Linked DNA regions of Homo sapiens: region 1 is reported to be linked to region 2. The links are microRNA targets in miRTarBase. Many come from high-throughput screens and were not tested one by one. Region 2 holds a microRNA gene; the other region holds the end of a gene's coding sequence.

Evidence for each region. Region 2 holds the annotated microRNA hsa-miR-499b-3p (AACAUCACUGCAAGUCUUAACA, at 2,228-2,249, shown strand). A microRNA usually pairs through its seed, bases 2 to 8, with sites in the 3' UTR of a target mRNA and lowers its output. Matches are read on the target gene's strand: a 7mer-m8 pairs with bases 2 to 8, a 7mer-A1 pairs with bases 2 to 7 and ends in A, and an 8mer does both.
Region 1: the mRNA of DCAF12L2 is a reported target of hsa-miR-499b-3p. Seed matches in the 3' UTR shown: 7mer-A1 at 582-588 and 7mer-m8 at 1,228-1,234.

Annotation. Positions count from the first base shown.
Region 1 is chrX:126,161,774-126,164,773 of GRCh38, reverse strand. DCAF12L2 (DDB1 and CUL4 associated factor 12 like 2) reads left to right here. Exons shown (of 1, transcript NM_001013628.3): 1 at 1-1,275. The coding sequence ends at 241. Among named protein-coding and RNA genes, the nearest start is that of DCAF12L2, 3.0 kb to the left of the region's middle.
Region 2 is chr20:34,989,124-34,992,654 of GRCh38, reverse strand. It overlaps MIR499B (microRNA 499b), which reads left to right and starts at 2,183; the gene lies at 2,183-2,255. MYH7B (myosin heavy chain 7B) reads right to left here. Exons shown (of 45, transcript NM_020884.7): 20 at 2,736-2,915; 21 at 2,509-2,641; 22 at 2,345-2,421; 23 at 1,830-1,917; 24 at 1,534-1,651. It overlaps MIR499A (microRNA 499a), which reads right to left and starts at 2,279; the gene lies at 2,158-2,279.

The DNA of each region.
Region 1 (3,000 bases), not on the chromosome of region 2:
GGAGAGGGCCTCTTCCAGCCTGGACTCCATGCCGGGGCCCGCAGGGAGGAAGCTCAAGCTTGCCTGCGGCAGAGGCTGGCTCAACCAAGATGACGTCTGGGTGAACTACTTTGGTGGCATGGGAGAGTTCCCCAATGCGCTCTACACCCACTGCTACAACTGGCCGGAGATGAAGCTCTTTGTGGCTGGGGGGCCTCTCCCTTCAGGCCTCCATGGGAACTACGCAGGCCTCTGGAGTTAAGGATGGACGCCTTGTTCTCAAAGTGCACAGGTTTACCTTTCAGTTCCGCCTGACTTTCCTTCTTCATGCTGCATTTGTGCTTTTAACTTTGTGTGGCTTTTGTCTTCCAGGTGGAACCAGTCCAACTTACGTGTGCTTAATGTATTAGGCAGAGAAAGAAAGAGAGAGAGCGGGAGCGAGAGAGCACAAGTGGTCCTTTCGGCAGTCAAAACTTTGGCTTTAAAACTCTCATTCACGTTTCCCAACAGCAGTATATTTTTGCCTTCTCATTCAAAGAGTTTTGGCTAAACCTTAATTGTGTTCTGTCTTTCAGTGATTCACATACCCTCCTTCTTTAGGTTGATGTAGTCATAGTCTTCACTACTATTCAGTACGTTAGTTTTATCAATATTGCAATAGTGTTCAGATCTTTTACACATGTTAGATGTGTGGTGTTTTGGGGAAATGTGAGCTACAAAGCATCTTTGGGGTTGTTTTGAGGAACTACCCATCATTTATAGCCTTACTCTAATTACAAAATGCAGTTCAGGTTCTAGATTGCCACCATTCTAGAGTGTGGCACACACCATTCTAGGGCGTGATTCATTTGGATGTTGGAAACTCAATGTCTGTTGTTTGTATAGTGTTGATGTGTAAAATGCTTTAAAAATATGTTCTGTTAGTTAGAAATCTTACAATGTTGTTCATACTATTAATCAACATTTTTGGTTATTCAGTAAAACTTTACTATCCTCAGGCCCTCCGTGTTCTTATTTAAAGCCGCTGTATTATGGCCTGCTTTTCTATGCTACAGATTTTCAGAACTACTCAATTCTGGTCTATATATGTGGTAGTGCAATCAGGGAGGTATTTTTGGGGGTATATGGGGTACACATCTCTTTAAATTCAGGTAGCTATTTACAGTGAAAAGCCAGTTGTGGCAGTTGTGCTCAGAGTAGGTGTTGATTTTTTATTACTGTATACATGGATAATTCTGGATCCAGTATGTGATGTGTTGCAGAAAAATAAATAAAATGTGTTCATCATCTTAGCAATTAAGTGGCAGACTTAAGTTCTTAATACTTAAATATATGCTTTCTTTTTTCATTTGTCTTTCTGAGAACGTATTTATCAAAGTCAAAACTTTCCAGGACAGAAGCTGAATCTGAAGCATTAGCTATGCAGACATTACTTTGTACATCTCTTTTTGAAAATGAAACTTATAAGTTAAAAGATTAAACAACATCTTGAATACGTTATGAAAATATACTTGGTGTAAGTTAGGATGGCTAAGTGTTTTTTAAAGTTGACTGAACAAACCATTTTTCATTTATACAAATATACATGTACTTATAACTACTTACATATATAATATATTTGTATATCTGTTTGTATATGTTACTTCCCATGTGAGAAGAAAGCATAGATATATATCATTTTATATGTGCAGCTATTTCTTATATATTGAACTACACATATTAAGACTTACCACTTGGTCTTTATTTGTGTTTTGTTTTATGCCAATTTAAAATAATTTTAATACAAGCACATGATCAAAAAACCATACAGTATAAAAAGTATACAGTTAAAAGTAAATCTCAAACCCCGGGGTCTCTAGTTTCCAGCCCATAGATTAGCACTAGTATATTTTTTGCATATACATATTTAGATTTAGTCTATATATATACAAGAACACATGTATGTGTGTATGGAATTTTTATACAAATAATAACATACTGTATGTATCTGTGCCTTTTTAATCACAAAATCTTAGTGATTTTTTCTTATACTTATCTACTTAATTTTATTGCATGCTGTTCTATTGTGTGATTGGAATACACTTGACTTATTCATTACACCTTTGATGATCATTTATGTTGGTTCTGGTTTTCTGTTACTGTAAACTATTCTGCAGTGATTACTTAAGTGTATACATCTTTGTGTACAAGCATAAATATATCTGCAGGATAATTCCGAGAAATGAAATTACTGGTTCAATGAGTAAGTTCATTTTATATTAATAGCCATTGCTAAATCATCTTCCAAGGAGTTCTCACCACCTTAACCTCCTACAAGTAATGGATGCACACCTGCTTTACCACACCCATGCCAACAGTGTGTCACCAAACTGTGCTCTTTGCCAATCTTACATCTACTTGATCTTGATCCTTTCTTTCTAAGCCACTGTGGCTGAGTTAATTCAATTTGTTGTCAGAGTACCAAGTGGGTTCTGAAACAAAGAACAAGAAAATGAAGGCAAGCAGTAAAAATGCTGCCACGCTAAAGGAAGAGAGTACCCACCATTCAGGCTCATGTACCTGGAAATGGATTACACACAGCTACTTTCCTTATATACTTAGCTGGACCTAGTAGGTTTCCCTGGTCTGTTGCACCCAGTTTAAGTTATACCCAACGTATGAGATGTCACTGAAGAAAATCCAAGAAGGAGACCACGAAAATCTGAACTAGGATAGTGGGGTAAGTGTGGAGAGGGAGAAAGTTATTCAAAACAATGAGGGGAAATAAAAGGAACAAACAGTATTTCATGTGAAAGATGAGGAAAACCAAAAAAATTAGGTGGACTCTCAGGCTCTGACTTGAATGTGAATGAATATTGACAGCAAATAAAAATAAAGAAAATAGGCATAGATAGTATGGGGGAGGATGATCAGTTTAACTTGGGACTTACTGAATTTGAGGTGCCTCTGTGACATCAGGAGAACATACCCAGTGAAGAATTGGCTGTGTACCCCAGGATGCAATTTCTCACTTCTGGGAAG
Region 2 (3,531 bases):
CAGAAGGCAGAGGTTGCAGTGAGCCAAGATCCTGCCACTGCACTCCAGCCTGGGTGACAGAGCAAGACTCCGTCTCAAAAAAAAAAAAAAAAACACAACCTTGGGGGGATTTTAAATGCATTCATTAAGTTTTTAAAGAGGCTTTTTACAGAAGGCATGCACTATTTTTAAAATTTTTTTAAAGGCAAAAAATATTAGTAGAAGGTGACATGCTGTACCCTATCACTGAAGAAACATTTGGGGGAAAATTCTTTTTTTTTTTTTTTTTTGAGACGGAGTCTCGCTCTGTCGCCCAGGCTGGAGTGCAGTGGCACGATCTCTGCTCACTGCAAGCTCTGCCTCCCGGGTTCAGGCCATTCTCCTGCCTCAGCCTCCCGAGTAGCTGGGACTACAGGCTCCCGCCACCACGCCCGGCTAATTTTTTTATATTTTTAGTAGAGATGGGGTTTCACCGTGTTAGCCAGGATGGTCTCGATCTCCTGACCTCGTGATCCGCCTGCCTCGGCCTCCCAAAGTGCTGGGATTACAGGCGTTAGCCACCGCGCCCAGCCCATTTGGGGGGAAATTCTAATGCAAAAGAGCCAGGGCTCCCAGCCTGCCCACTTCTAAGTGGACACATGCACAGGGCTGTGTGGGTCAGGTGGGCTACAGCCACGCTGTGAAGGCCCCTCATGAGGGGGACTCATTAAACAAAGCATGCAGTCCACCAGACTGTGAGATGTTTCACAGCCAAGAAAAACGGATGACGATGGCAGGCATACGCCTGGGGATAAGGAACGATCTCCAGGCCAGACTGTTAGAAAAAACAAGGTCACAGCACCATGCGTGTGTGTGCGTGTATGGTATCTGTGTGAACCTCTGTTTACAAAGGATAGTGTGGATGACACCATGACTTCTGGAGGGAGAAGGAACGATGGATGCTTGTTGCCCATTGAGGGAACGGGGAGGAGCTGGCAGCACTGCCCAGGTGCTTGCTATGTGCCAGGTGTCTCATGAAGCCTCGTCCACATGATTCTCGTTCAACTCCCAAATCTGCATCCTTTCTGCCCGCTGCCCTGAGCTCCAGATTGATAATCCCAATCTCCCCCATGACTTTTCTAGGATGTCTGCTGGAGGCATTTCAAACCTGATACACGCAAAACAGAGCTCAAACCAGTATCCCTTCACCTCTCCTCCAAATCAAAAAACCCTGTTTTTGTAGCTCAGTAAATCTACCACTGGTAGCTCCCAGGTTGCTCACTCCCAAAACTAGAAATCATTCGTCTTTTCTGCATCCAGAATTCCATGTCCAGCTTATCAGCGAGGCCTGTAGGCTCCACCTCCACTATTTGCCCCAAGCCTATTCACTTCTCCCCAAGTCCCCGGCCAGGTCTGAGCCACCCCCATGTCTTGCTGGGATACCTGGCCAGGCCCCTCACAGTCCCTGCTTCCCCCTCCAGACAGGGGACCGTCTGTTGGGCTCTGATATGTGTGTCCTGCCCAGCCCCTCAGGCCTCCACCTGGAGCAGCAGGCAGGGGGAAGGGGTCACCCACCGCTGCCGGAAGTCGGTGTAGAGCAACCTGTTGGGGAACCCTTGGCGGCAGATCCGGATCCCCTCCAGGACCCCATTGCAGCGCAGCTGGTGTAGCACCAAGAAGGCATCCATGACCCCTGGACGTGAGAGGGGAAAAGGTCAGAGGTCAACAGGCACACCCGCAGGCCCCAGAGAAAAAGCAGCAGTGGAGACCCTGCGAGGTGAGGGGGAAGATGTACTCAGCCTCCCGGCCTCTGCCCTGTCACCTTCCCATGATGCCTCCCGGCCCCAGCCAGGCCAGCCCTGGGTGACTACCTGGGGTTTTGTTCTCGTTGGGGACAATGCAGCGGACGAAGTGGGGCTGTGTGGCCCGCAGGTTGGTCATCAGCTTGTTGAGGTTCTCCTGGCAGTGGGGAAGAGTGAGGGAAAGGCACAAAGGGGGCAGAGAACCAGAATTGGATGCCGCAGTGGTCAGGACCGAGACGGGAGCAGGGCCCTAAGTGCCCTGCACTTTTGCTCTTTCACTCTCATTCTGGTGATGGGAGACCCTTCGCTGTCTCCCATCACCACCACCAAAGTCTTCACTTCCCTGCCAAATCCCCGTCCCTCCCAGAGCCCCAGGGCTCCCACCCCTTCCCCACAAACCCTGCCCAGGCAGCGTAGGGACGGGAAGCAGCACAGACTTGCTGTGATGTTCACGTGGAGAGGAGTTAAACATCACTGCAAGTCTTAACAGCCGCCCGCCCAAGGCACAGGGGACAGGGCAGGGGGTGAAGGACGGGGCTGGAGGCTGCCAAGAGGGAGGGTCTGTCTCCCAGATGGGGCCTTACCTTGTGCAGCTGGGACACCGTCTGGAACGATGCTGCCTTCTTACGCTTCTCTTTCACCCCAGACTTGGGGGGCTCAGCTAATAGAGACAAGGGGCCTGGTCACTCCAGGGAATGTCGCTCTGTGGGCCCCTGTCAGAGTGGAGATCTTGTCCCTCCATACTCACTGGAGCAGGAGCCCGCATAATTCTCATAGAGAGTCGCCAGGAGCCTATTCTGTGACTTCTGGAAGATGGGGACCACGGTCTCATTCAGGGGATCCTTGTTTTTCTCCAGCCAGCCCACAATGCTGTAAGGCACCTGGAGAGACAAGTCAGGTGCTGAGCCCGGGTGGGAGACCTGGAGCAGGGCGGGAGGAGCCTGGCCGAGGGCTGGGGTTCCAGCAAGCACCTACCACGCCTGCGTAGTGGACCACCTCGAAGTGGGCCTGGTACTTGCGCTTCTTGTCAGGCCGAGGCTGCTGGAAATTGGGTGACTTCCCCGCGTGGTTGTCGTAGAGCTTGGCCCGGAAGCTGGCGTCTGAGGCCTTGGGGAACATGCATTCCTCCTCCAGGATGGACAGGATGCCCAGTGGCTGGGAACAGAACGAGCTTGAAAAGCCACCATCAAGCCAGTCCATCCTGGAAGGACTGAACCCCTGGTTCCCCAGGCCACCTCCCTTCTGGGAGCCTTCCCAGATCCCCAGCTTCAGCCATCTCCCCGGATGGTCAGACACCACACCCACTCCAAGAACCCATCTCCTAACAGAGAAAAGTTTGTGGCTTGGCTCCAGTCCCCTCCTGCAAAATCTGCAGCACTGAGGTGTCATCTTCACTTCTAACAATGGCAAACCCAAGCTGGCATCTCTGTACCCACTCTCACCCCCGCCACAGCCATGGCTGTCACACACAAACATGGGGTAAGTCAAAAAAAGCCATCAAGTTCACATTTTGGCTTCCTCACTCACTAGCTGTGGGGCCCTCCGACATCACTAAGCCTCAGTCTTCTAACCTGCAGAGTGGGAAGATGAATGTCTTCAGTGCTGACATAATATTTAAAAAGCTGTCAATCACCTAAACGCCCAGCTGTAGGGGACTGCAGAAATGCATCGTATGAAACTCATCCACTGCATGAACTACTCTTGCCATGAGCAGCATTCAAAATACATTTTCAGAGAAAAAGTAGGATATGAAATGAAATCTGTGTCTATA